3 separate regions of the Homo sapiens genome follow, and regions 2 and 3 are each linked to region 1. The links come from fine-mapping of genetic effects on gene expression. A gene starts in region 1. Each other region holds a variant in brackets. All regions are shown on one strand. Distances are between the middles of the regions. Region 1 holds the start of PRKCZ (protein kinase C zeta). Region 2 overlaps PRKCZ (protein kinase C zeta). Region 3 overlaps PRKCZ (protein kinase C zeta).

The links. PIP is the estimated chance that this variant, and not a neighbour inherited with it, causes the effect. A credible set is the group of variants that fine-mapping cannot tell apart.
Region 2: its variant is the best candidate, but not a certain one, in a credible set for the expression of PRKCZ in whole blood (TOPMed, PIP 0.84).
Region 3: its variant is the best candidate, but not a certain one, in a credible set for the expression of PRKCZ in blood mononuclear cells (TOPMed, PIP 0.89).

The regions. Positions count from the first base shown.
Region 1 is chr1:2,043,846-2,053,563 of GRCh38, forward strand. It overlaps PRKCZ (protein kinase C zeta), which reads left to right and starts at 6,566. Exons shown (of 18, transcript NM_002744.6): 1 at 6,566-6,856. The coding sequence starts at 6,786. PRKCZ-DT (PRKCZ divergent transcript) reads right to left here and starts at 6,225. Exons shown (of 3, transcript NR_135509.1): 1 at 6,023-6,225; 2 at 5,753-5,821; 3 at 5,356-5,623. It overlaps LOC105378590 (a long non-coding RNA gene), which reads right to left and starts at 3,602. Exons shown (of 4, transcript XR_007065357.1): 1 at 3,349-3,602. RefSeq lists silencers at 1,035-1,084, 1,145-1,224, 6,144-6,753 and enhancers at 2,701-3,454, 3,455-4,208.
Region 2 is chr1:2,162,205-2,171,922 of GRCh38, forward strand. It overlaps PRKCZ (protein kinase C zeta), which reads left to right. Exons shown (of 18, transcript NM_002744.6): 11 at 7,314-7,400. Among named protein-coding and RNA genes, the nearest start is that of PRKCZ-AS1, 17 kb to the right of the region's middle. The variant C/T (reference allele first, on the strand shown) is at 4,643.
Region 3 is chr1:2,072,203-2,081,920 of GRCh38, forward strand. All of the region lies in intron 4 of PRKCZ (protein kinase C zeta), which reads left to right. Among named protein-coding and RNA genes, the nearest start is that of PRKCZ, 27 kb to the left of the region's middle. The variant A/G (reference allele first, on the strand shown) is at 4,033.

The sequences.
Region 1 (9,718 bases):
TCTATCTTCCAGGCCAGCCTCCTCTTTCCTCCCCTGGCCTCTCCAGACCCTGGACACAGCAACCCCACCTCCTCCTCACTGTGTTGGCTCTGCTGGGAGTGGCAGTGCCCAGCCCCTCTGACAGTATGTGCGCGCGCACACACACACACTCAGAGAGCTCCACACACACACAGGTACACACAGAGCTACAGACACACAGGTACACATAGAGAGTTACACACAGGTACACACAGAGAGCTCCACACACTGGTACACACAGAACTACAGACACACACACAGGTACACACAGAGAGCTCCACACACACACAGGTACACAGAGCTACACACACACACAGGTACACACAGAACTACAAACACACACAGGTACACACAGAACTACAGACACACACACAGATACACACAGAAAGCTATACACACACACACACACACACATACACACGGCCCCCCACACATGGGTACCTGTGGAGAACTACACACATATATGCAGAGACTGCATTCGTGAGGTCCCATCTGAATATTTAATTTTTAAGTTATTATTATTATTTTTTTAGAGGCTGGGCTTCACTCTGTCGCCCAGGCTAGAGTGCAGTGGTGCCACATCTCAGCTCACTGCAGCCTCCACCTCCTGGGCTCAGGTGATCCTCTCACCTCAGCCTCCTGAGCAGCTGGGACCACAAGCACACACCACCGCACCCAGCTAATTCTTAAACTTGTTGTAGAGACGGGGTTTCACCATGTTGCCCAGGCTTGTCTCCAACTCCAGGCCTCAAGCGATGCGCCCGCCTCGGTCTTCCCAAGTGCTGGGAATGCAGGCGTGAGCCACCGCGCCCGGCCCAATCCGCAGATTTTAAGCGGGGACGACTTAAAAACAGGATTGCTGAGCTGCGACGAGGGGGGCTGCAAGGGGAAGGACACGCGGCCCCCGGGGCTGAGGGCGGCCCGGAAGGATGGACTCCGAGGCGGGGCTGAAAAGGGGGCAGCCGCGCCAAGCAGGAAGCGCCCCGGGGTGGGGCGGGAGGCCCGGAGGCCCCGGAGCCAGAGCGGGCAGGGCCGGCGCTGCGCGGTCGCCGAGGGACCCACGTGCGGGACGAGCTCCCCGGGCCCCCACGCGCCGCCAGCCCGAGCCCCGTCTCCCCGCGCGTCCCTCCTGCGCCCCCTCCTGGGCAAGCTCCGCATTGCGCGCGGCCGCCAGCAGCCCGGGACCCGCGCAGCTCCCCGAGGCCAGGACAGCCAGCAGGGAAGTGCCAGGCCTGAAACGCCGCCGGAGGAATGGTACCCAGAAGCTCGGGCGCTGGAGGGCGGCTGTGGAGTGAGGGGCACACGGGCGCGTGGAGGCAGTTAGCGACAGACACACGTGCGCCGGCACATGCACACAGAGGCGGGCACACACAGACACGTGGGCACAGAAAGGCACGCAGGCTGGGCCGGTGGCTCATGCCTGTAATCTCTGCACTTTGGGAGGCTGAGGCACCAGGATGGCTTGAGCCCAGGAGTTTTAAGGTCAGCCTGGGAAACGTAGTCCATGTCTACAAAAAAATACAAAAATTAGCTGGGCGCGGTGGTACGGGCCCGTGGTCCCAGCTACTCAAGAGGCTGAGGTGGGAGGATCACCTGAGCCCAGGAGGTCCAGGCTGCAGCGAGCCGAGATATGGCACCACTGCACTCCAGCCTGGGTGACACAGTGACACCCTGCCTAAAAAAAAAAAAAAAGCAGGAAAAAAAGACACACGCACAGACATCTATGCATGCATAGACACACATACGTCAACACAGACACACAAGCACAGACATATCTATACACACACGTGGACACACATACACAGACACATGTATGCATTCACACAATACACACAGACACAAACACATATAGACTCAGATAAGCACACAGGCACTCACACCCCACACCCTGTCTGAGGCTCCCCTGACCCTCCTCGCTGGGGCAGCCTGGCCTCTTCACACTCCCTGCACCCTTCACTCACAGAGCCCTTGCTCCCTGGGGCCACAGAGCTGCCCCACTGCACACATCATCAGTCCCGGGGCCAGCCTCTCCCCCGGGGACCTGGTCAGCCCGTCTCAGCCATTCTGCACTCCTGTGGTTCTCTGACAGTGGCCCGTCTCCAGCAGCGTCCCACCAGGAGACCCCGCCTGGCCAGCTCACTGCTGTATTCCTGGCTCAACTCCTGGCCCTCCGTCCAGTAGGCCCTCAACCAACGTCCATCAAATGAACCCATGCAGCTGACATTGTCTCTTGAGCCAGTTTTTCCAAATCCCATGATCCCTGACACAGAAAGGAAACATCTGGCCAGTCCCTCCCACGGCTGCTGTGCCCAGAGCCTGTGAGCAAACGCCTGGCCCTTCCTGTGACGGTGGTCCTCGCAGGACCCCACAGGGCAGCCTCACATCTGGCAGGAAGACCCACCCGGGCCCCTTGGGCTCTGTGAGATGCCTGCTCCTGTCGGGCACCTTTCTGGGCAGTCCCAAGCACTAAGCCAGCACAAATGCAGTTTAAGAGGCTGATGAGGGAGGCCTCCTCCTGGGGGTGTGGTGATGGGGACCCCACGGGCCACAGCCAACCCCTCCCAGACGTCCGATGAATCACACTGAGTGTAAACTGCCTCTCTTCTAAAAGGTCTCAACATCACTCGACAGTATCATCAAAGGACTCTTCCTAAGGAAAATCACAGGGTAGGCCCGGCAGCCACACAGAGCCACCTTGGCGGGGTCAGGAGCTGCGGCTCCCAGGTGCCCCAGCCCTGCTGGGAGGCCACCCTCAGCCAGACCCTGCAGCCACACTGCCCTCTGCCGGTCAGCACCCTACCCCAAGCCCCAGCGGTCACCTAGCACCTCCACCTGCGGTCCCAGGCACCGGGAGAGGGAAGGCTGCCTGCACTGGGAGAGGGAAGGCTGTCCGCTTCACGGCCGGGGTTCTTGCTGCTTAGCTGGGGTTTTGGGAAAAGGCTTCACCTTGCCCTATACCGTTCTGTGTTGCTTGAGTTTTATAAAAAGTCAGTGTGACTTTCATAACTTGTTTTTTTCATTTAAAAAATAATAGGTGTTTATGATTATGAAAGTATATGAGAACTTTATGAAAAATTTGGGAGCTACAGAAACTGCTGAGGTGGAAAAGCCTGGCCTTTAGCCACCCAGAGGCCTCTCTCGGAGCCTGCCCTGCCCACTCCAAGGGTCACCTCCACACCCCACCCGCCCCGGAGGACCCAGGGTGAGTCCTTGGAAGCTTCCAGGGCTGTGCCTTCTCGGTGTGCTGGGCTCGATGGGACATGACTCTGTCCCCACCCACTAGGGGTCTTAGGAGGCTGCCTGGCTCCAGCACTCTTGAGGGGTCCTTACCCGAGTCACTCACTCATTCCCCGTGTGCCAGGTGCCTGGAGAAGCTGTGGGGACCCGGCCTAACAGGGCCCAGCCCTCAGCCGGGATCTGGATGGGAGTCGTTGGCAGATTCCAGAGCAAACACCCTGTATCTGTCGCCGGGCGACACAGTGACACCACCGCCAGCCAGTGAGCCTATCCGTGTCTCAGGAAGCGCCCTCTGCCCTCAGGGCCCTCTCAGGGGCACAGGCTCAGGGCAGAGGACCTAGGAACCTCCCTGTGACCTGCCCTGCCTGCCCAGAGGCGGGTCCAGGGCCTCCCAGGCCTTTGTTTTGCAGATCTCATTAGCGGAGACCTCTGCCTCCTGGAGGGGAGGCCAGAGCAGGTACTGGGGGAGGTTTTGGGGACGTTTTGGGCAGCCCCTGTGCCCGCAGTCCTCTGCTAGAGCCTTTCGGAACCTGTGTCTGTCCCGACCCCCCCTCCACCGGCGGCATCAGGGCTGAACAAAGTCTGACACTGGGGTTGACCATCCACTGACGTTGCCCTCTCCCTCCCAACCCCAGAGAGAATAGAGCCCCGCCCCCCACCTTCCCTCGCTGGGACTGGGGCACTGCCACGGCCCTGGGACTGGCTTCCAGGACGGAGGCTCCCGCCTGGCAGCACAGATCTCCCCAGGGAGGCCAGTGCCGAGGGCCTGACCCAGCAGGGGCGTCCTTGGTTAGAAAGGGTCCTCCGGGGCCTTGGGTGGGGCAGGCCCAGGGAGAGATGTCCAGTGACAGGGAAGGACACAACCGAGGGTCCGTCCTGCCTGCTGTGGGCAGTGGTATCAAGGACCGGGCCTTGCTGCCTCCTTGGATCAGAACGCCAGCCAGGAAGTCCTGTGGGTGCCCAGTGGCCCCTTCCAGGCACCGCCCCACTAAGGTGAAACCCTGCTCTTTCCTGCCCATCAGGAAGCGCCCAGGCCATGTTGCCAGGCCAGACTCCAGACAAGGCCACAGCCCTGGCCATGGGGCCTGGAGTGGGGGAGCTGGGCCGACGGGTGCCTGAATCCAGGGCTGCTGCAGGTGCAGGTTCCCACTCATCACTGTACCCTGCCAGGCTGCCCCCTCACCCTCTACTCTCTGCCCCCCTTCATGCCCAGCTGATGGGCATGGGGCTTTGTGCCTGTGCGAGGGATAGAGGGGGTTGCCCCATGGAGATGGGGGTGAGGAGTAGATTGCTGAAATGGGCATTAGGTATGCTAGAGACTTCAAGGAAGTGTGGGTGCCAGTCCAGCAGATCTCTGCAGGCAGGTGCTCCTGGAAGAGGGAGTGGCTGTGCAAAGAGGGAGTGGCCGTGCAAAGACGGAGGCCGGGGCAGCAAAGAGGCCTCGAGGCCGGGGCAGAGGAGCTGGCCTTCCCTCCAGGAGTGATGGGAACCACTGGGGGGACTTCGATGACCCAGAAAGATGGAGTGGGGGAAGACGTCAGCTGAGAGGCTCATTAGGAGGATGCCTGGGGCTGGGTGAGTGTTGGTTGGGAGCTCAGGGGGCCCATCTGAGCTGGGGATGCAAAGCGGGCCAAAGGCTGAGGCTGGGGCTCCACAGTTTTAAAAGCTGCAGACCAGGAGGGCGAGGGATGGGAGATTTAGGGAGCTGGAACCCGGGGCCAGGGATGTGTGAGCCTTCCCAGGAGGGGTCTGATACCAAAGGCCAAGTTAAGAAAATGTCTGAGGCCGGGCACAGTGGCTCACGCCTGTAATCCCAGCACTTTGGGAAGCCAAGGCAGGTGGATCACCTGAGGTCAGGAGTTCGAGACCAGCCTGGCCAATATGGAAAAACCCCGTCTCTACTAAAAATACAAAAATCAGCTGGGCATGGTGGTGGACACCTGTAATCCCAGCTACTTGGGAGACTGAGGCAGGAGAATGGTTTGAACCCAGGAGGCAGAAGTTGCAGTGAGCCGACATCATGCCATTGCACTCAGCCTGGGCAGCAAGAGCGAAACTCCATCTCAAAAAAAAGAAAAAGAAAGAAAAAAAGAGAAAACGTCTGAGAACCGACGGCTTGTATTTAAAACGTGTGAGTGGGTGGTGGCAGGAGAGGTAGACAGGGAGCAGGGCCGGCTTGGCGGAAGCTTTGCTGTAGAGAGGGGCAGAGATGGCTCGGTGGGTGGAGGGAGGGGCAAACGGTGTTTAAGAAGAAAAAACGACAGCTTCTGCGTAGGAGAGGGGCCTCCTGTCCATCTCCAGGGAGAACATGGGTTCTGTGGCCACAGGTCTCCCCAGGGCCTGGCATCAAGGAGGCGCCAGGCACGACCTGCGGGATGAAAGCACGTGGCTGAAGTCCTGGTGGCTGTGTCTGGGTGAGGGGTGTGAGGGCGTGGCCTGAGCAGGTCCACTCTCAGGGGAGAGGGGCCGAGGCCAGGAACTGGGTCTGGGTGTCCACCTGGTGCCTGGGTGAGGTCCTGCAGGCAGCAGGTCTGGGCTTCAGTGGATGCAGCCAGTAAGGGATGGGCTGATCAGGGAAAACCGTATTTTCAGGGGAGGAGCCCAGGAGGCAGGGAGCTGGGCGGCGGTGGAGGGGCCTGGAGGGCGATTGTCCAGATCAAGCCCCTCGAGTAAGGCCCGAGAGGCTGTGGCTTCAGAAATGAAGGTCATGGGCGACTCGGGCCAATGCCGCGTCCTTGACCTGGGCGAAGTGAGCGGTTGCACTCACGAGTGTGGACGGCCCTTCCCTACAGGGGACCTTGGATTCGCTGGGGGCGGAGTGGGGGCTGGGGCCCAGAGAACCCGAGTCCGGACGCTCCCGTCCGTGACCCTGGCCGGGTTCTCCGCTCCTCGCAGCTTCAGTCCGCAAGTGTGAGATGTCAGGGGACCCCTGGACGGCGGGGCCCTCGGGCTGGCAGCGCGCGCCGCAGGAGTTTCGATTCGGAGGGTCTGGGCGAAGGCCGAGAACTCGCGTTTCCAGCGAGTTCCCGGGGGCGCCGCTCCGTCCCAGAGGCCGGGGCCCCTCCGGTTGCCGGGCAGAGCCGCGCCGCGCGCGGTCCCATTGGCGCAGGTGCGCCGCGCCCCGCCCAACAGGTAGCCCCGCCCGACAGGTAGCCCCGCCCGCGCCTCGCCATTGGGCCGCGGCCGGGTGTCCCCCGAGGATTGGCCCAGGTGGCGGCCCCGCCTCGCCCTCATTGGCCGCAGGTGCCACCGCCCGCCCCGGGACCGCCCGCCCCGCGGATTGGCCGCTGGCTCCACCTCGGTCCGCCATGTTCGGACACCGCCCCCCGCCCCCGCCGGACGGTCCCGCCCCGCGCGCCCCCCGCTCCCGCCCCGCGCGCCGCCGGAGTTCCGCGGAGTTGACCGGGTCGGCGCCGTCGGTCCTGAGCGCTGCCTTCCGCGTTCCGCCGCGGCCCCACCTGGAGCCCCCGCCCCGCGCCATGGCCGGAGCTCCCGGGGCGCAGCGCTGACGGCGGCGGGGGGAGCGCGCCATGCCCAGCAGGACCGGCCCCAAGATGGAAGGGAGCGGCGGCCGCGTCCGCCTCAAGGCGCATTACGGGGGGTGAGCGGCGGAGAGGGCGGGGAGCGGCGCGGGTGAGGCAGGGAGGGCGGGGAGGGCTCAGCCGTCGGGGCTCCTGCGCGAGAGGGAGAGAGGGAAGGGGCGGCGAGGTCGCTGCGGGCCCGGGGCTGTCGCGGGAGGTCCTCGGTCCCCGCCCGTGAGCGTCACCCGCGGACACGTCGTGGACAGCGCGGGCTCCTTCCCCGGGACCGGGTTTCCCTGGGGTCGGCCCCGCGCCGCGAGCTCCTCGGCCCGGTCATTGTGGTAGACGTTTTCGCTGGAAAGTTGGGCGGGGACGTTCCGGCCGCAAACCTGTAAGGACTGAAAGTTTTCATCAAGTTGTGAAAACTCCTGGCGGGTTTCTTAAAATCAGCGTTTCCTAAACGTTCTCCACGTTTACCCGGTCGGGGGTCTCGCTTTAGCCAAAATCCGGAGACCCGGGGCGCGGGCGCTGTGGCTCCAATGCAGCCCCCGGCAGGGCTCGGGGCGGTCGGGCGGGGACAGGGGTTTCTGGAGGAGACGGTGGGGCCGAGACTGACCCTGGGGTTTGCGTCGCACCCGCCCCCCGGAGGCCCTTGCCTGGCTGTGGGAGGGGGCGCGGTCAGGTGCTGGAGCGGAGGGGTCCTGGACTCTTGGCCGCCGCCTCGGGGCAGCGCTGCTGGGGGTGGCGGGGGCTGCACCAGGTGGCCGGGCTCACAGGCACAGCGGAGGGGTCGCTGCCCCCCGAAGTGTGGGCGGTGGGGAGGGGAGGACCCGTGGGTTTGTTCTTCCACCTGTGCGCGTCTCCAGGAGCCCCGAACTGGGACCTCCGCTCCCGCGAGGGTGGCTGCTGCTGCAGAGAGGGAGGGGAGCAGAATGCGGGCTCCGGACTTGCACTGGCTGGTCCTTGGGATCTCGAAAAGCTGCTCCTGCCCCGGTGCGTCCTCAGCTACAGCGTGGGCAACCTGAGCCCCAGAGGCAGGGACGGCCGGCAGGGTTAGGCGGGTGACAACTTCCCCGGGCCACGTCCTCTCAGGACAGTGCCCCGGGGGTCTCTATGGTGCCCTGCGAGTCTGAGCGGGTTCAGCTTCCTGCGAACCTTGTCTTGGGGTCTCGGGTCAGCCATCTGGGGCTGCTTGGCCCCGGGTTTGTTGAGGAGGCTCAATTGTCTCTTCTTTGGGAAGGTTGGGGCCTCTGCAGCTCCCCTGTGGCAAGCACCTGGAACCTTCGGGGTGCAGTGGCCCGGGTTTGGTGCCAGAACCAGAAGAAAGGGATTTCTGGGGGACTGACCGTCCAGCCCTACCTGAAGAGGTAGGGCAGCCATGTCTTTTGGCCTGGAGGTCAGCAGGTTAAAACTTGGTATGGTTGACGTTCTGGCTATTGGACTTGTCCAGGGACCTGGGCTTCCTGTCTCCTTGCCATTCTGGAGCCACCACACTGGGCAACAGGTGATGGTGCGGAGCTCAGGGGAGTCCTGCGAGAGGGAGGTCCACACCCGAGGGGCTGCAGGGGCCCAGACCCTCCTGCATTCCGGCGTCCAATTCCTGGGACCAAGGCTCGGAGGCAATGCCACTGGAGTTCTGGGCCGCCCCGTCCTCCCTCTGCCTTGCTTTGGCCCCTGGGAGCACTTTGGTGGTGGGGCGGGTGTAATTCCACCCGGTGACTCTGGTTTCCCAGGCTGGAGAGACCAGGCTCCCACCCCTTCCTCTTCCCTCCCTTCCCGGACTCTCTCCCCTCTCTCCCCACCCCTTCCTCTTCCTCCCTCCTTCCCTGTTGTTTTCCCTCCTCTTCCCGCTCTCCCCTCTCTCCCTTCCCTGCCACACCTCTTCCTTCACCTTCCTCCCCCTTCTAGGGCACGTCTCCCCTCTGGCTCTTCCCTGCTCCTACCATTCCTTCTCTCCTCTCTCCCCTCCCAGGTCCTCCTCCTCTCTGCTGCAGAGTGTGAAGTACCCTTCTCCCCGTTCTGGCTCCTCGTCCCTCTGGGCACCCGGTGCCTCTCTGAGGGGACTGGCTGTGGGGTGGGACACTCAGGCCTTAGGGCAATGACACAGTTCCAGAAAGCGGCTGCCAGGATGAGTACTGGGTTATTGAAAGCCCTAGAAACTCTGTCCCTGGGGTGAGACGCTGCTGTCCGTGGGGGTAGCTGAGCGTGGACACGTGGAAGACTAGTCTTTAGAAAAAGGAAGAGCACTTCAGTCACCCCCATGGGGCATGGCCACCCCGTCATCCTTGCCTGTCCTCCCAGGGCCCTCTGAGCACACTTGAGATCCAATCCTCGCCACCCCACCCCGCCCCCTGTGGGCCTGAGGGGTCCCCAGGCACCTGTGTTTTCAGGGAGTCCCAGGTGGCCTGGGCCAGACTCCCACGCTGAGTCTCAGATGCCCGCTCTTCTAGGGCCACAAACACTGGTGCTGGCTCTTCCCTCTTTCAGCTCAGACTTTTTTTTTTTTTTGAGTCTCGCTGTGTTGCCCAGGCTGCAGTGGTGTGGTCTCGGCCCACTGTATCCTTCACCTCCGAGGTTCAAGCAATTCTCCTGCTTCAGCCTCCCTAGTATCTAGGACTACAGACGCCCGCCACCACGCCCGGTTAACTTTTGTAGTTTTAGTAGAGATGAGGTTTCACTTTGTTGGCCAGGCTGGTCTCGAACTTCTGACCTCGTGATCCGCCCGCCTTGGCCTCCCAAAGCGCTGGGATGAAAGGCGTGAGTCACCGCGCCTGGCCCAGCTCAGACAACGTTTGTGTTCAGGGAGCTTCTGTGTGCAAAGCCCAGGGCTTGGTGCTGAGGCCAACAGAGACGCAGGAGTCTCTCCCGGGCGGCCCAGCTGGCTGCTGGGTGCTGAGTCCTGGACGCCCCTGCTGAAGGGCACAGGGCAGCTGTTTGATTCA
Region 2 (9,718 bases), 120 kb after region 1:
CACTGCAACCTCCGCCCCCTGGGTTCGAGGAATTCTCATGCCTCAACCCCCCGAGTAGCTGGGAATACAGGCCCCTGCCACCACACCCAGCTAATCTTTGTAGTTTTAGTAGAGACGGGGTTTCACCCTGTTGGCCAGGCTGGTCTCAAACTCCCAACCTCAAGTGATCCACCTGCCTGGGCCTCCCAAAGTGCTGGGATTACAGGTGTAAGCCACTGGGCCTGGCCCGAAACTGGCATTTTCATTGGGATTTGTTAAGTTCACACATTACCTGGGGCGAAATTGACATCCTTCTAAGTGTTGGATCTTCCCATTCAGGAACCCGGTTTACCTTTTCATTCACTCACATCCTCTTTCAGGAGACTCTTGAAGTCTTCATGTGGTTTTCTTCACTTCCTTGTCTAATTATTATTATTATTATTTTTACAGATGGGGGTCTTGCTATGTTGCCCAATCTGGTCTCAAACTCCTGGGCTCAAACGATTCTCCCACCTCAGCTTCCCAGAGTGCTGGCATTTCAGGCGTGAGCCACGGTGCCTGGCCACTTCCTTGTTTAATTTTGTCTTGAGTGTTTCATCTCGTTTCTGTTATAAACGAGGTATTTTTTCTTCTCTCAGAGCATCCAGCAGCAGGCAGCTTGGTCTCTGCGTGGTAACTGTGGGCCCCATGGCTTCTGAGTTCTCTTCCTTGTAGTAACTTTCATGGCTTCTGAGTTCTCTTCCTTGTAGTAACTTTCATGGCTTCTGAGTTCTTCCTTGTAGTAACTTTCAGGTGGTTTTCTGGGGCTTTGGATGCACAGGGTTAGCATCTGCAGGTGGGGCAGCATCACCCACCTCAGCCGCTGCAACCAGGTCGTGCCGTCTCTGTTCATCTTCCTCTCTGGTGACAGTGGCCAGCACCTGCCTCACTGGGGTGACGTTGACACTGGACGGCCCTGTCCTATTCCTGACCCCAGCTGGAACACTTTGCACCGGAAGCGCAGTGCCATCCTCAAGGCAGAACGGAAGCATTTACCCATCTCGGGCAGGCAGCATTTGCCCTGGCATGTGCAAAGGGTGTTGGGAGGGCCACAGGGGAGAGGAGAGACAGGGGCTCTGCCTGCAGCCGTGGAACTGGGTTCTGGAGCCCACAGAGGAGCTGTCCCTGCCTGAGCTGTTGGAGACGGGAACGGACCCTCCCAGTTCCTGGGCCCATCATCTGGTCTCTGAGGACACCTGCTGGCAAAGGCCCTGGCAATGATACATACAGCCTCTCAGCCCCCAGCCACTGGGAGAAGGTTCTAGAAAGGCTGAGCAGCAGCGTGAAGCTGAGAGAAGATGACCGATAACTGCATGCAGAGGTGTGACTTGTCCTATTAAGGGACTTTCCACCCATTTCTGTTTTGCTATCAAGAAAAAACACTGAGGCCGGGTGCGGTGGCTCACGCCTGTAATCCCAGCACTCTGGGAGGCCGAGGCGGGTAGATCACGAGGTCAGGAGATCAAGACCATCCTCGCTAACACAGTGAAGCCCCGTCTCTACTAAAAATACAAAAAAAAAAAAAAATTAGCCAGGTGTGGTGGTGGGTGCCTGTAGTCTCAGCTACTTGGGAGGCTGAGGCAGGAGAATGGCGTGAACCCGGGAGGCGGAGCTTGCAGTGAACGGAGATTGCACCACTGCACTCCAACCTGGGCGAGAGAGCGAGACTCCATCTCAAAAAAAAGAAAAAAAAAAGAAGAACACTGCAAGTTGTGCAGGGGCCTCCTTGCCATTTGTGGAGATCATTGTTACGATTTTTACTCCTTAGGGCCTCCTGGAATGAATGGTGTCATCGTAATGTAGCTGCTGGTATTGAACCATCCTTAGATTCCTGGGGAAAACCGTGCCCTGTCTTAGTGTGCTACTCTGTTAATGTGCTTCTGAATTCAATTTGCTGATATTTTATTTAGGATTTTTTTTGGTTGATATTCATATTGTTTTAGTTTAGAATCTTCAGGACACAGAGCTACTGCTCCAGTGATCAAGGGAGACACAGGATGGAAACACACCTTTTGTCACCCACAGGCCTTGGGGGTACACAACCTGCTGGGAGGCCAGGGAGCGTAAAGAGAGACAGGGACCCTTTATTGGGTCCAGGGTGTTCTGCACACAGGTTTCCCATGGGAAGTTTTAACTGATGGACTTAAAGCAAGCAGGCCTGAGCTCCGTGGGGCCACACTGTGACTGTCGGGGGACTCTGCAGTGTGGCTGCACAGTCCATGTTGGGTGTGGTATCAGTGGGGCTGCAGGGAAGTCACCAGGGGGCAGTTGCATAGGGTGGGTGTCTGGATGGGCCAGCTCGAGGAATGGGGGATGTGGAACTGGAAACTGTCAGGGCGACAGCCCTGCTTCTGGTGGGAGAAAGTCCAGCTTAGATCCAGAATGGATGCCGAGGCAGCCTAAAACCATGAGCGTTCCCTGCACACTCTGGCGTCTGATCTCTAGCTTCCCTTTCTTGTGCAAGCTTCATTGGATTTTTAAATTTTCCTAATTTTTCAATTCCCGGGAACATTCTAAATTGCGTTATTACCTCTTGGCGGGATCCCTGTGCGATTGCCGGGCCTTGGGTGTCGTGGAGGGCAGCTGCCTCGCTCCGCCCTGGCTTTCGTGATGTTGTGAGCTTTACCCTGCCGAGGCTGGGTGTTCTCACCCAGTCCCACGGCTGCACCCTGCCTTGCCTTCTCCTCTGCTCAACTTCACCCCAGGCCGTGTCTCCTGGCTCCAGGAAGGTGAGGGGCTGCCTCCCATGCGTCCTTTCATGTTGAGGACACCCGTGTTTGCCTTTGCACGTGAGCCCCATTGTCGCTGGGACACACTGCCCTCCAGTGCTCGAGTGCATTTCCTGGGCACTTTCTGGCCTTTTATCTTTGATGGAGAAATCCGAGGCCTGCCAGCATCCCCACCAGTAGATTTCTTTGGACGAAGTAAAATCCTTCTGTGGATTCAGCTTTACCGCCTTTCCTCATCTGCTGGTGTCTTCCTCAGAGCTTTAATGTCCGTCCTGCTCTCCGAGTCAGGAATCTGATTTTCCAGCGTGCCCTGTAATGACGGTGCTGTCACCGCTGTGATGTCCGCTGTGAGGTGGGGACAGGACCTGGAAGTGGGGTTTCCAAGTGAGGGTTCTGGGCCCGCCCGAGTCATCTGATGTTGGGTCTGACAAGCCAGGAGCTGTGTGAGCCGGAGAACGTCCCCTAACCTGTCTGTGCCTCGGCTTCCCCATCTGTAAAATGGCGAGAGCTGAACTTACTTCCTGGTGATGGGGTCAAGTGCGTTAACACAGAGGGACTTGGAGACTGACGCTTACTGAGGGCCACACCAGCGGTCAGCAAAGGTTGTCTTAAAGGGTCAGGCAGTAAATATTTCCACCTTTGTGGGCCATGCGGCCTCTGTGGCAACTATGCGTTCTAAAACAGAAGCAGCCTTAGACACTGCGTGAAGGGACGCGTGTGGCCGTGTTCCACCAGAACTTTCTGTACACACATGGTGGTGGCCCGCCCGGACCCATCTGGTTAATTCTTGACTCTCAGGGCAGCGTCTCCTGTGCCTCCAGGAGAGGGCTGTGGTTCCTCCCTCTGAGCCGGGCACCTTGCATTCCTGGAAGGGGTGGGGGGAGTGGCGAGGAGGGGGCGGCACCAAGGACAGGGCCCACCTCCTAGGAGGTTTTGTGAGCTTCCCTCAGCCCCCGGCCGCCCCCTAGGAGGTTTCGTGAGCTTCCAGCATCCCCCTGCGGCCACTGTCCCTCCATTTCCCATGTCTGTTGGATGGTGCCGGTTCCAGGGCAGGGTCAGGGACTGGATCCGGCTGCGGTCTGCGTCTCGCCTGGTTCCTGAGAGCTGCACTTTGTCTTTGGTTGTTGATGAATCCATTTTTGCTGGCGTTCTTCACGTTTGTGTATTTGATTAAGTATCATGGACAGGCATGTGCAGTGGCTCACACCTGTAATCCCAGCCCTTTGGGAGGCTGAGGCCGGAGGATCACTTGAGGCCAGGGGTTCAAGACCAGCCTGGGAAATATCTCGAGACCCTTTCTCTACAAAAAATTTAAAAATTAGCTGGCGGTGGTGGTGCAAGCATGTGGTCCCAGCTCCTCGGGAGGCTGAAGCCGGAGGATTGCCTGAGCCTGGGAGGTCGAGGCTGCAGTGAGCCATGATCACACCACTGCACTCCAGCCTGAGTGACAGAGTGAGATCTTGTCTCAGAAAAACAGCCCCGAGGGCACGTGTCTCATGACTCCCGCCTCCCGCCTCCCATCTGGGCTCTGCTTGCTCCTCTCCCCTTGCAAACATGAGAGGAGCGTTAATGCCAGGACAGGGAGCAGGGAGGGGCATCCCCAGCGCCTCCAGGCCACAACATGGCGAGTGTGGCTACCAGGACACGGAGGGGCAGCCTCAGCCCCCTCCCCCAGGCCACGACATGGCGAGTGTGGCTACCAGGACACGGAGGGGCAGCCTCAGCCCCCCCCAGGCCACGACATGGCGAGTGTGGCTACCAGGACATGGAGGGGCACCTTCAGCCCCCCACCCCCACCCCCAGGCTGTGCTTCCCAGCATCCCTTGGGGTCAGGACTGTGTGTGTCACTGAGGGGCTACGGGTGAAGCCACACACGCCCCTGGCCTGGCCTTGCG[C/T]CCCTGCCTGAGAGCCTCTATGCAGGACAGCGCCTGTGGGGCACCCAAGTGGGCCGAGCCCATGTGGATTACAGGTGCACACCACCAGCGTGAGGAGAGGAGTGGGCTCGGAGCATGCTCAGCCATGGTCCCAGGCATCTTGTCAGCAGCCAGCTCAGCTTGTGTCACGCAGAGTCGCCTTAGAGTGAATTGACACCAGATTGTCCTGGTGGGTTTTTGCTCTGAAGAAATGTCAAAAGTAGCATTAAGGTTTTTCTGTAGACAAAAAAACCCCACCATCATTGCAGCTTGAGCAGTTGCAAATTAAATAAATTCCTTCCTCAGCAAGCTGCCTGGGTCCTAGGCCTTGGGCAGAGAGAACTGGCTTTCAGCACAGTTCCCGTGATTGGCTTTTCTCTGGAGAAGAAGGGGAAGCGGCCTCCGCCTCTACCTCTCTAAGTGTTTAAATGTCCCCCAAATTCTCTCAGCCTCCTGAGGCATTGTATTGATGCTTTTCTCTAGAATTCATGTATTTCTTTATTTTCTCTGGAAATGGCATTGGCTTTGTCCCCGTCCTATGGGCCGTGATAGCTTAAAGTTAGGATGAACCCACAGAGGCCGTGGAGGCCCTTCCCAGGCGCCGCAGCAGCACTGTTGGGGTGAACGTGGCTCCTCTCGGGGGGACAGGTGGAAGGGACCAGCACCCATTGGGGCGTGTAACTCCTGGTGGCAAAAAATGTGCGGTGAAGTCACCCTAAGGGTTTTTGTGGTTTTTTGTATTTTTATTTTATTCTTTGAGACAGAGTCTTGCTCTGTCGCCCAGGCTGGAGTGCAGTGGCGCAATCTCAGCTCACTGCAGCCTGTGCCTCCTGGGTTCAGGCGATTCTCCTGCCCTCAGCCTCCCGAGTAGCTGAGATTACAGGTGCACACCACCAGCCCTGGGTCATTTTTGTATCTTTAGTAGAGATGAGGTTTCACCATGTTGGCCAGGATGGTCTCGAACTCCTGACCTCAGGTGATCTGCTTGCCTTGGCCTCCCAGAATGCTGGGATTACAGGCCTCGTGAGCCACCACGCCCAGGCACTCTAAGGGTTTTGAATAAATTCTTTCTTAACGTTTTCTGACCGACTCTTAGGTCGTGGGTGTCCTCCAGGGGTTGGAGGCCTTCATGGAGCTTCGTTCCGTGGGGTTGACGTTACTGAACGAGTCCCTCCACGGGTGCACTGAGGACGTTCCTGCACATCGAGGGCACCCTCAGAGCTGCTCTTTCTGTCATTGCTATTTTGTTTATACCGGGGATTGGCAAACTTTTTCTTGAAGGGCCCAAGAGTAGACATTTTTGGCTTTGCGGCCACAGGGTCTCTGTTAGCAACTCCCTCTGCCACGGTGGCTGGAAAGCAGACATAGAAAATAGATGCACCAGTGAGCATAGCCTCGTTCCAATAAAACTTTATTTACAAAACAGGGAGCAGTGGACCAGCGAGTCCCCAAGGACAAGGGCCAGGTTACCAGAGAATTTCCAGGCACATCCGTTGGAGGCAGGGGAGACAACAAAAGCCGAGGAACGAGCCTTCCCCAGCCGCTCCCCAAAGGCACGGCTTATTCTTCAGGGTGCCCGACTGGCCACGTGGACGTCTCTCCAGCTCCTCACTTGGGGCCCAGGGCTCTTTCGATTTTTAGGAGTTTGTTTCCAATCAGAAACTTCACAGATGATTTGCAGCCAGTTCACCTGCCCTGTGTAAACTGGCCTCTGTCCTCTCTGGCTTAATTCTGGGAGCTTGTGGAGGGCAGGAGCAGGGACAGGTGCCTTGAGGCGTAACAGTGGCGGTGGTGTGGGAGCTTGCGTGGGATCGAAGGAAACGGGCAGAGTCACCACACGCTTCCCTCCTTCACTCCCCGCTCCACGAGGGGCAGCCAGGAGCAGCCACCAGTCGGAAGCAAATAAACAATTCAGGTGCCAGAGGAGCCGCTGACCTAAAAAAACCCGCCACAGGGTATTTCTGGGAGATTGTATGAGAATTTAATTTTGAAAATTGAGTCTCATGAAATGTAGGAAAAGATCTTATTAGGAAGAGAAACCATGTGGCCCAGTCCCTGAGACGGGAAGGGCCTGCGTGGTCCTGATGACATCTGCGGATCTTTTAAAATCATACGATCATGTCTGCGAAACCGGGATGCCACTTCCCACCTGGCTTCTCCCTGACCCCAGCTTGTTCCCTTGGAGGGCCGGTGGACTCCTCAGCCTTGCAGCAATGAAATCAGGCCTTGAGGCCACCCCACCCGTGACCTGCGGTGCTGTCCCCATGCAAGAAACTGCCTCGCTCCAGCCCCCAGCAGATCCTGTCCCAGCCCCCAGCCCTGGTCCAAGCCACCTCCACTCCCACCTGGTGACGGGCCACCTCCTTCATTCCGGGGCCCACCCACACTTCCCAAGTCCACACACAGTGGCCAAGAGTGAAGGCCGGCGAGGCCCCCGCATGACTCCCTCACCTGCACCCTTCACGAGCGGCCCCGCAGCCCGTCCCCACCAGCCCCTCTCTGCTGCCAGGGTGCTCCTGCTGCTCTTTGCTCTTTGCAAGACTGAACCTGCGGGAGGGTTCGGGCCCACGAAGGCCGCTTCTGTGGGGCTTCTGTCTAAGGAGGCCGCCGTCTGCCGAGGTGACTGCAGCCTCCGGCGCCTCTCTCCCTGCAGGTTGTTCCTGGTCATTGAGTACGTCAACGGCGGGGACCTGATGTTCCACATGCAGAGGCAGAGGAAGCTCCCTGAGGAGCACGCCAGGTGGGTGCGCGTGGACGGGGCCGGGTGGGTGCGCCCGGAGTTGGGGATGGGTGGGTGCGTGCGGTGTTGGGGGGCTGGGTGGGTGCGCACAGAGGGATGACGGGTGGGTGCGCGCGGAGTTGGGGGGCCGGGTGGGTGTGCGCAGAGGGGAGGTGGCTGGGTGGGGTGTGCACGGAGGGGGTATGACGGGGGCGGGGGGGGCGGGGTGCACGTGGAGGGGGCCGGGGACCTTCTCCAGGGGTCAGCAGGGAGCTCAAGGGAGGGAAGTCCAGGTAGGATGGCAGAGGGCATCATGTCCCCCACAGTGTGACGTCCCCTGCATTGTGACACATTCCATATTTGCTCCAGAGTCACAACATTTGGGAGGTCTCCTGAGTTATGGTGCCTCAGACCAGTCCCCCAGGCCCCACCCCTGAAGCAGCACCATGCCTCATCCGAGAGAAGTGAGAGTCTCCTGGGATTGTGCTGTCTTCATGGTGGCTCTGCCCTGGTTCTGCTCTTCACCCTGTTAGTGGCACAGCATGGCCAGCATTTCCTCAGCGTTAGGAGCAGAACGAGAGTGGTCTGTTTCTAGAGTGACCTGAGAGACTCCTTCCTGCCCTTCCCTTTCATCTCTGATATCTTCGGGCCTCCCCTGGCAGCCGAGGGGCCTCCAGCATGGTTCAGGAGCCTCCCCCGGCAGCCGCGGGACCTCCAGGACCGTTTGGGGGCTTATTTCAGCTCCCTGGACCTTTCCTGTCTTTTGTAGTTTCTCCTTTTCCTCATTTCCTTACTTAAGAACGTTGCATGCAGTTTTGTGAGTCACCTTAGATTGTTTCTGGCAATAGGACAGTAGGCAATAAATCTAGAACAGTACACTTCCCACAACGCTGTTTTTAAAAACTGTGGCAACACACAACATAAAAGGTAGCATTTTGGGGCATGGAATTCAGTGGCGTTGAATGCACCCCATGCTTTGCAGCCACTGCTGGCCCCCGTCTCATCTCCAGAGCACGCCCCTCTTCCCTGCTGAAGCTTGGCCCATCAGACACTCCCTCCCTGTCCCCCGCCCCAGCCTCACATCCTCACCCCAGACGGGCACGTCCCACTTTCTGTCCCTCTGATTCGAGGACTCTAGGGACCTCATCGGAGTGGAATCACAGTGTTGGTCCTTCGGTGGCTCATTTTCCTGAGCATAGCGTCCTCAAGATTCATCCGTGCTGTGGCCTGTCTCAGAATTGCCTTCCTTTTTCAGGCTGGATAATGCCCCGTTGGATGGAGGGGCCACACTTTGCTTATCCGTCCATCCCTCGGGGGGCACTTGAGTGGCATCCACATGTTGGCCATGGTGAACAGTGCTGCTGTGAACATGGGTGTGAAGTAATCTCTTGAACACCCTGCTTCCGGTTCTTTGGGGTATACACCCAGAAACTGAATTGCTAACCACATAAGAATTCCATATTTAGGCCGGGCGTGGTGGCTCACGCCTGTAATCCCAGCACTTTGAGAGGCCAAGGCGGGCGGATCACGAGGTCAGGAGATCGAGACCATCCTGGCTAACACGGTGAAATAACACAGTGAAACCCTGTCTCTACTAAAAATACAAAAAATTATCCAGGTGTGGTGGCGGGCGCCTGTAGTCCTAGCTACTCGGGAGGCTGAGGCAGGAGAATGGCGTGAACCTGTGGGCAGAGCTTACAGTGAGCCAAGATCGCGCCATTGCACTCCAGCCTGGGTGACAGAGTGAAACTCTGTCTCAAAAAAAAAAAAAAAAAGGTCATATTTAATTTTTTTTTTTTTTTGATGGAGTCTCGCTCTGTCACCCAGGCTGGAATGCAGTGGTGGGATCTCAGCTCACTGCAGCCTCTGCCTCCCAGGTTCAAGTGATTCTCCTGCCTCAGCCCCCAGAGTAGCTGGGACTACAGGTGTGCGCCACCATACCCGGCTAATTTTTTTGTATTTTTAGTAGAGACGGAGTTTCGCCATGTTGCCCAGGCTGGTCTTGAATTCCTGACCTCAGGTGATCTGCCTGCCTCGACCTCCCGAAGTGCTGGGATTACAGGTGTGAGCCACCAAGCCTGGCACCGTGTTTAATTTTCGAGGACCTGCCGGACTGTCTTCCGCAGCAGCGGCGCTGTTCTGCACTCCTACCACAACGTGCCATGGCTCCGGTCTTTCCCGCATGGAAGCTGTCGTGTTATTTGCCCGCTCCTCCCCTTGTGGAGGCTGCCACATCGTTCTCTGTGTCTTTGACAGCAGGCCATCCTAAGGCGCATGGGGTGGTGTCCTGGAGCTTTCATTGGCATTTCCCTCCCTGGCCCTGTGCACTGCACTTTCAA
Region 3 (9,718 bases), 28 kb after region 1:
CCGTGCCTCGTGGTGAGCTGCTGACAGAGCTGGAATTTGAACCCGGGGCTCTGGCCCGGAGTCCACTCCGTGAATGCAGATAAACACAGGTTTATGAGCTTGATGATTTAAATGGAGGTTTTATTACTGTTCAGGCAGGTGTGGGAGGCCAGCCATCAGGAGATGATGCCGTTGAGAAGGTCGTTTATTACTCAGCTTCTGAGAGGAGACCTCCTCTTGCCTCGCGGGGCCATGCGGGCAAGCGCCGGGTGGGTTGGAGGCAGGGGGATGTGTGGGTGGGGCCTTTACTGTGGTTTCCATGGGAAAGGTGTGGGGAGCAGGCATTGGGTCGGCCAGGTGGAGTAACTTCAGCCAGGCTCTGGGGTGCAGGGGCTGTCCCTGTGACCTGGGGAGGCCCCTGGGGCGACTGGGGGCCCGTGTAGGAGGTGGGCCCAGGTGAGAGTTCTGGGTTGGTGGGTTTGCATTTGAAAGGTTCGCTGTGGGACAAGTCCTTTGCTGTCTCTAGGAATCGGTTGGCCTCTCGGGGCCGTCCCTCCAGGGTCAGCAGGGCCATAGGTGCTGGAGCATCGAGGGCACAGCACGTATGAATGCAGGGAGCGTGTGGTGTGACTGGTCAGAGCCAGAGGTCTGCAGGACACTCCCCTCTGTCCCTCTGCACCCCCAGTGCGAAGCGGCCCATGTAGGCTCAGCACGAGTGCCGAGTGCGTTTGGGGAAGTGGGCAGAATTCCCAGCTGAGCACCCCGCGACCCCCCATGTTTTTTATGATTGGAGGAAAATGCCAGGTCTCACTTGCCAGTGATGACCAGGTCCCAGGGTTTGTCAGGGTACCAGGGTAGGGGTTGGAGGGTCAGGCCACCCAGCGGCGGTGGCGGCTCTGGGTCTCCCTAGGAGCCCGGGCTGGCCACAGCCAGGCACAGCACAGCCCGTGAGGTCTGGTCTTGGGAATGCGGGTGTCTCCTGCCTTAGGCTGAGGGTGTGCGTTTCCAGGCCAGCCGGGACAGTTTTCAGCCTGGGGAAGCTTGGCCTTTCCTGTTCCTGCCCCCCAGTGCCCACCGTCCCCACACACACTGGTGGGGTTTGTGGGGTGGACACAACCACATCGCAAGGCCCCTATGCCTCCTCTCCTCCCGCTCCGTTCCTGGGCTGCGGGACAGTGCTCGGGGCCCTTGGCCATTGGTGTCGAGCCCATTCACAGCCTCTGGACGCAGGTCAGAGGTCACTCGCCACGGCCACAGCTGCGCTGTCCCCCACTCCCAGCCTGGCAGGCCAACCTGCAGGACCCCGGGCTTAGCTGGGTTCTGTTCTGATGTCGCATTTTCAAGGTCCGCTGAGTCCGAGCCCTGCCTGGGTCTGGCTGCTGCCCGCCCGCTCTCTGGACTGTGCTGATGCAGAGATGCTTGTTTTCCTGTGACGTCAGCGTCAGCTCCTGCACATCCATGCCGTGTTTTAGTTTGTGCCTCAGCTGCTGGCTACAGCTTCCCGGGGGAGCCGGGTACCACCCGGGCCTGGAGACATGAGGAGGCAGGGATGTGAGGGGCGGGGGACAGGACAGCCGGCCTTCCGTTAAATATCTGCTCCTCGCGCTCGAGCCTCCCTGCCTATTGTCGGGGCCGGAGGCGAGCCGACGCAGCATCAGCTCGTCAACGGGAAGGAAGATGCCTCCCTGCACGCCCGCCGCGCACAGAGCATAAAGAATCTGCGCTGAGGAGGCAGGAGAAGAAAGCCGGTGAGTCGGGGGCATCTCCCCCGTGGATTTTCCGCGCCCCCGGGGCCGGGCCAGCCGTGCTGCAGGCCCTGTGCGTGCGGAGGACGGTGCCCGAGTCAGCATTTTGGGTCTGAGTCCCGGCGTTGCCGCTGCCTGTGCGCTGCACAGATGCTCCGGGCAGCAACACGGCTGGTGCCACGGCCCGGGGAAGGCGTGCGGCTGCAGCAGCTCCCAGCAATGTCAGGGGAAACGCAGTGAGAGGCTGTTGTTTTGCGGGTGACAGATTTTTAGAAAAATAAGGCTGTGGAGGGACCTTCTGAGCGAGGCAGGGGCTGCTGGAGGGACATGCTCACCCCGAGGACGGATGGTGTGTGGCCCAGGCCTGGTGGATGTGTGGCGGTGGCTGTGGAGGGCTGGGGGCCGGGGGGCTTGGGGAAATCGTCTTGGGCTCGTCTGCCTGCCTGGCCCCAGGGAGTTGCTGGCTGTTGGGAGTTTCACTGTGGCCGATGCTTTTTGGTTGTGGGTCTGTGGGTCTGTCGGGGCCAGGACGGATGGCCGCTTCGTCTCCATTCTGCATTGCTGCAGGTGGGCAGATTGATGAGACCACGGGTGAAGTCTGGAGACCCCAGGTGCCAGGGCTGGTAGTGGTAACAGCCAGCACCTGTTCCAGGCCTGCGGTCTTTCCGTCTCGAGCCTGCCCTCCCGCCTGTCTGAGCCCCCGTTTTGCATTGACAGTGTTGGGTTGGAGTCTGGGTGGCACAGCCAGGGTTAATGTGCACGGCTCACTCCATCGGGGTCCTCGGATGGTGGCGAGGAGCGGGGCTGCGGCGTCCTGTTTTCTATTCTGAAATGGTTGGAGGTAGACTCGGAGGGGTCTGGGGGCTGCATGGTGTTTGGCAGGGATGTGGGAATGTGGGTGCTTTTCTGACGACCATTTTGCAAGGTGTTTTTTTTAAAAAAAAAAACAACAAAAAACCAAAACAACAACCAGCCTCCCCAGTCAGGCTTGTGGGGAGCCGTGGGCCTGGGGAGACTGGGCTGCTGAAGGTGGGGACTGGGCTGCTGGGGGAGGCGGCTTTCCCTCTCGGGGGGTGCTGGCTGCTGGGGAGGCTGGCAGCGCGCCCCTCCCCCAGGTGCGAAGGGACCTCAGCAGACGCAGGGCTGCTCCGCACAGCCAGCTTGGGCCGCAGGGGTCCTTGAGTGATGAAGATTCTGTGTTGATGGGGTGAGTGGGAGAGAGACGGAGCTGGGGTGGTTTTCACACGTGCGCCTGCCTGCGAGGAGAAACGTGCTGTGTCATAGTTTCCTCGGTGCCTGGGACGGCTTGGCCTCTGCTTTCGTGTGAGCCCACGCTGGCCATGCACAGCTGGCACGATCCCTTGCGGTGTGAATACACTGCTGGGGTGGGAGCGCCGTGGCCAGGGTCAGGATTCGAGCGGTTACTGGCTTTTGGTCTGATGGCCCTCGGTGGGTGAGTCAGAGCTGGGATGGGGACAGATTGGAGGGGCCACCGGCTGCCCCCCAGAAGCTGTTTCGTGTTGATGCTGCCGGGGCCGGCTGTGGTACCTGTGTCTGTGTCTCGGCCAGATCGGCACACATCTTCCGCGTTCCTGTCCCAGCTGCATCAGCCATCAGTGGGGGCCCTTCTCCGACCGTCTTCCTAGACTTCAGAGCCACTGGTGGTTATGTAAGGAGTTGTGTGTTCCTCTGCCCAACTCCGAGCTTGGTCCCACCTCCCAGACTCACCTCTGGGCTCCGGGCTCTGCTGCGATGTTTCCGAGGCTCCCAGTTAATCAGATCTGTCAGCCCAGTGTCCACAGGGTGCCTGAGAGCCCAGCCCATCCACACTGGGTGCCCCAGACCTTCCACGGGGTCTGGTGGGGACCTGCCAGGGCTGTCAATGGCCCCAGTGGAGAGGCCCACTGAGCATCCTGAGAAGTTCCCGTGCTTGTGACCTGCTCTCGTGTGTGTAGCAGCGGGGGCTGCGTCTCATCTGCCACACGTTTCTGATCGCCGAGGACTCAGCCGGGCACATGGAGGTTGAACTGTTGGGGGGCGGGAGGACCATCCATGGGGTCAGGCACCAACCTCTGCTGAGGATCCCAAAATGTGGGGTAGCCATCCTTTCTTGTGCTGGCGTGGAGCTTTTCCCAGGAGCTGGGCAGGGAGCTGTCACAGGGCCAGGCCCCTGAATGGGCTGTTTGGGGCCGGGGCTGAGGGGGTGCCCAGTGCCATCGAGGGGAAGCCTGTGGGAAAGTGTGATGACATCTGAAAAACCAGGAGCAGGTCCCTTGCTGTGCTGGTCGTGGTGCTCGAGTGTGGGCTC[A/G]GCAGGTCTGGTCTCCTGGCGCCCACTCACTCCCTGGCCATCTCCCCACCTCCCTCACATGGCAGGGGGAAGTGGAACGTGCGGCCACTGCTCCCACCGTCCCTCACAGCACAGGCTGGACAGGCACCCTGAGGCATCCCCATCTCCCAGCCCCTGGGGTTGGCATGATGCTGGGCCTCCAGAAATGTTTGTCATTTTATGCAAAGGGCAGAAAAAGCTTTGTTCAGGCCAGGCACAGTGGCTCACGCCTGTATTACCAGCACTTTGGGAGGCCGAGGTGGGGGATCACCTGAGGTCAGGAGTTCAAGACCAGCCTGGCCAACATGGAGAAACCCCGGCTCTACTAAAAATACAAAAATTAGCTGGGCGTGGTGGTGAGCGCCTGTAATCCCAGCCATTCAGGGGGCTGAGGCAGGAGAATCGCTTGAATCCGGGAGGCAGAGGTCACAGTGAGTCAAGATTGCGCCACCGCACTCCAGCCTGGGCAACAGAGCGAGACTCCATCTTGAAAAAAAAAAAAAAAGGAAAAGCTTTATTCAAAAGAAGCCACCTGAACCAGTCGGTCGTCCAGTGTTCAGCTTGTTTTTGGTCATAAAGTGGTGGCACTTGTCACTCATACAGGAGACGCTGTGGCAGAGCCCCTCCACGCATCGGGGCCCGGCAGCTCATTTCTAGGATTCTCCTGAACACGCGAAGGAGGGCACCCACCATGCTCGGGACTGGCTGCTTCTCTGTGAGGCCTCCAGGCAGAACCAGTGATTCCACCGTTGTGGGGCAGCCTTGGTGGGCCCACAGGTCTGTTGTTCCCCCTGAGAGAGGATCAGAGTCAGGAGAGGCGAGACACCAAGTTGACACGAACAGATCCCTGCTGCCGGTTGTTCTGGCGGTGCTGTGAGCACGTCTGACGGGTGTGAGGGTGCTGGGGCTTCGTTTCGTCCACGCTCACGTATCGGGCACACAGGAGAGTTTACACGCGCTCTGGTGGGTGGAAGGGGCCCTGACTTGATGTTATTTTGAAATAGGGGGTTTGAGTGTGTCTGGTCTTTCTGAAGTTTTCTTTTTGAACGTCTCTTCTGTGGGAAGTTTGAAAAGATTCAACCGACTGCAAGACGGAGCCGCCCTGTGTCTGTTGGGGCTGTGGGGACCCAGGTGCACTGGCAGCTCAGCCGCATCGTGGGCCCAGATGGCTTCTTCTGTTTGTTCCTCAGCGAACCTTGATTGTTGAAAGAATCCCGTGAGGCTGTGTCAAGTGTAGACAGGCCAGGCCTGGTGTCTTGTCCTGGTCAGGAAATTGTGTTGTTGCCCTTGTTAAATGGTTGTGTATAAAGTTTGCATTGTACATTATATTTAAAATTTTATTTTGAGTTTTCCATATTTTCTATTGTAAGGTGTTGATAGTTCTGTGGGACTCACAAAGAGAGAACAGGTGTCCCTGGTCCTCCCTGCTGCCCCAGCTCCACTCCCTGGAGGGGATCACAGCAGTTTCTTTTTGACATTTATTTCCAGATTTCTAAATGACACATTTCTGCTGCTATTTCTAGTCGTTTCCATTTAGGATGTTACTTCCCTACTTTCTCTGGGACACATCAGCTCATCTCTTCCTTCCTTGTTCCATCCTCCTGATGGAGTTATGTCACTGTTTATTGTTTTTAATCATTGAGTGTTTACCTAATTGCGGGTGACGTGAATATGCATGAGCTACCATGATTGCATTCCCTTGTTGGCACAACTTTTGGGTTTCCTTGGAGTTAATACATTGTGATTGTTTAAATCAGTTTCCTAGATGTCTTGTCTCAAATTTACTCCAGTTTCCTCTTCCCAGAAGAGGGGCAGCTCCCACCGATGCCTGCCTCACCTCCCTCCTGGTGCACCTGGCCCCCCACACAACATGCCGTGGGGCTTCCCTGTGCCCCGAGCTGGGAACAGTCCCCTCCTCTCTCCTCTGCCTACAGTCTTGATCTCTGGCTCCCTCTCTTCCTCTTTCTTGGCTTAATGTCCGGTTAAGACCCTCCAGCAGCTGTCTGAGAAAGATGGCGTGGGAGGCCAGTTTGGGGGATCTAGTTGGAAAATGCTTTTCCTCCAGCCACACACTTAAGGATAGTTTAGCTAGGTATGAAATTCTGTATTGGAAAGAATTTTCCCTCTGCATTTCGAAGGGATCGCTCTACTGTCTTCTGGCTTCTTGTGTGACCGAGAAGTCAGGTGCCATTTTGATTTTGTGTGTTTTTCTCCTGAAAGTCTTGTAGAATCTTTTGTCTTCAGGGTTCTCAAGTTTCATGATAATGTTCCTTGTCGTGGAAACTTCTTTGTCTCTTGTGCTGGGAACTCGTGCTGTGGAACCTTGCGACATTTGGATGTGAGGAGCTTTACACCCAGTTATTTATCACATGGCCGACTCCCCGTCTCTGACTCTCTTTTAGAGTTAACGCTGATTATTTGTTGGCCCTCCCAGGCTGGTCCTTTAATTTTCTTCTCTATTTTCCATTTCTTTGTTTATGTTATATGCTAGGAGACATCTTCAGGTTTCTCTGTCCAAACCATCTGTTAAGTTTGTTAGTTTGTTGCCTTGTTCCCGTTCTTGTCTTTCGATCTTTTTTCTCTGAAGGTGGCTTTTTTTTTTTTTTTTGAGATGGAGTCTTGCTCTGTCGCCCAGGCTGGAGTGCAGTGGCGTGATTTCGGCTCACTGCAACCTCCACCTCCTGGGTTCAGGCCATTCTCCTGCCTCAGCCTCCTGAGTAGCTGGGACTACAGGCGCCCGCCACCACGCCCAGCTAATTTTTTGTAGTTTTAGTAGAGACGGGGTTTCACCGTGTTAGCCAGGATGGTCTCGATCTTCTGACCTTGTGATCCGCCCGCCTCGGCCTCCCAAAGTGCCGGGATTACAGGCGTGAGCCACTGCGCCCGGCCTGAAGGTGCCTTTTTAAGGCAGAGTGCCCTGCCCTTGTGTCAAAGGCATATCGCACTTTTTCTCTGGGGTTATTCGTCCCGGCTGAGAAGCACCGCGGTATCATGTGGTGATTGAGCAGCACCCAGCACATTCATGGCTGCGAGGCTTCCCGCGTGTGAACTCATTTAATCTTCTCAGTTCCTTGTGGGCACCATTGTTTTCTTTGTTCTGGGTAAAGATTAGCACTGAGGCACAGACAGGTCAAGAAATTTCCCAGAATCGCACAGTTTGAGCTGGGACTCAAACCCCAAGGGCTGGGCTTAAGCCCACGCTATTTGCCGCGTGCCCCAGGGCCTGAAGCTGCGTGGTCAGGCCCCAGCTCTGCTGCCCACCAGCCACGTGACCTCGGCCACAACGCTGTCCACCGTGTCCCGGACCCTCATAAGTGAGCGTGATGGTAAAAGGCTTGGCTCCCAAGGCTATCATGGGATTAGCCAGTAACTAAGCCACAACGCTGGCCCCGCGGCTGCTGCTGATGGCGGCACATGGTGGGAGCATGTGTGCTGGCAGCGGTTGGTGATAACGTCTCCTTTTGGTGTTTTCTTTGGCCTCGTACTCAGCTGTTTTCACCGAGAGTCCCTTTTTGTGTTTGTCCTGGCCTTTGCGGCTTCCTGGGCCCCTGGTGACCCGCATTTGTCTGCCCACATTGACTCGTGGGGCACCACAGAGCTGGTGGTGGCGGAAGTCCCCAGGGGAGTGTCCTGCCTGGGAGGGCCGGGCATCTCACCCCTAGTAAGGAGTCTGCTGCCCCCGCAAGCCCTCTCGTTCCCTGGCTGCTTTGGGTGAGGAAGGGGGTCTGGGGGTCGACTCCTCACTGACTGGGACCCTGCACAGCAGGTGCCCCACTTTCCTGCTACCTGGAGCCTCTGACTTGGGGCCCTTCTTTGGGGTTCGGCCCAGTACAGTCTCCTGGTGGCCACGGGGCCCTCTGCCTTCCAGGTCCCAGGGCATCCACTACCCGGCCTGTCCTCCTCTTTGCTGTTACGGGTTTTTTGGAGTTTTTCTTCCTTTGGTCTTGGGAGGGAGAGTCAGTCAGTGATGTGTTTGAGCTGCTGTGTCCACCTGGAAACCATCGTGATGACGCTTTCTGAAGGCTAAAGTATGCAGGAAAACCAGAGTTGGAGAAGGTCTTTAGGTAGGGGCAGTGCGCGTGGACGTGGCGGTGCGCGTGGACGTGGCAGGTGTGGACCAGCACGTCCCACTGCTCTGCATCCTGAGGGGCCGGAGGGTGTGGTGCAGGGTTTTAAGGAGGGCAAAGGCCCCTCTGTTTGTTTTTCCTTGATGCTGCCCCCCGTGCGACCTGGGGGCAGTTTTCAAATGCTTGACCCAGGTAGTTTAGTTCTGTCACCCCCTCGTTCAGTGGGGTGGTGGGAAGACCAGTTTTTGGAACAGTTTTGGATTTACAGAAAAATCAGGACAGGAGTAGAGCACAAGCATTCCCTCCCTGCTCCCTCCTGGTCAGCGTAATGCGTGAGTTACACTTCACCAGCCAGTCTCGGCACCTTTCCAGCTAAGGCTTTATTCCGCTTGCCTCAGTCTCCCCTCCTGCCCCCTTTCTGTCCCAGGATCCCGTCCAGGGCCCCACGTGGCACTTGGCCGTCACGTCTCCTTAGGTCCCTCTCACTGTGGCAGGTCTCTCAGACTTGCCTCATTTTCAACGACCTTCGTAGTTTTAAGGAGGGCTGGTCAGGTGTTTTGTGGGACAGCCCTTCGCTGGGGTTTGCCTCATGTTTTTCTCATAAGGACTGGGGCCTTGTGTTTTGGGAGGAGGTGAAGCCTCCTTATATCGCTGGGTCCAGGTCCACACCCTCCACGCAGCCTGTCCGTGCTGGCCTTGCGTGTCACCTGGCCGCGGTGTGTTTGTCGGCTCACACCTGCCCGTGCCTCTTCCCCCGTGCTGTCCTGTCTGCGGAGTGAGGCGTGCGTGGCCCACACCTAAGAGGTGAGGAGCTACATACGTGATGTCAAGTTTTGCACGGGACTTGTACGTCTGTTCTCCCATTGGTTATTTAATTATTCCTTTCTGTTCATGTGGACTCGCAGGTGTCAATTTCATACTTGGGTTAGAATCGGATACCGTGTCGCTTACTTATTGCTCAGATTGTTCCAGCTTTGGGCACTGGGGCCCCTGCAGGCTGGCTGTTGGGGCAGCGATGAGGCCAGACACTGGGTGGGTTGGGGGTGGGTGCTGACGGGTCTCTGGCAGGAGGGGGCAGGCTGCAGGGAGCAGGGGGAAGCAGGTCCCAGGCCCAGAGGTGGGTCTCGGGCGAGTCTGGGCTGTGGGCATGGACCCCCAGAAGGGGCCTGTGTGGCCAGGACGTCCCATGGCTGCAGACCCCGGTGTGGGGTGTGGGCCCTGGGAGGTGATTGGTACTGCAGCCGGAGCTCCAGCATCATGCCAAGGTGGTGCTGGGTCGAGGCGGGGAGGGGAGAAGTCACCACACTGTGCCCGGACTTGGTGGCGTGGTGATGTCGGGGCTGCGGTTGGGGGACTGACCCCGCATACTCTTCTCCCAGCTGAGTTGGCAGTGCCGTAGGGTCAGCAGCCCAGGCTCTGCATGGGGCTCGTGTGGGACTCGGCAGGTCCCTGCATCACCTGGCACCAAGCTCAGGCACGCCCCCCACACCCCACCACTGCCGCCCCGCCCCCCAGCATCCCCTTCCTGCTGCCCTCTGTGCTGCACTGACTTCCTCAGTTGGTTTGATGAGAGGTGACAAAGGCAGAAATGGGCAGAGAGC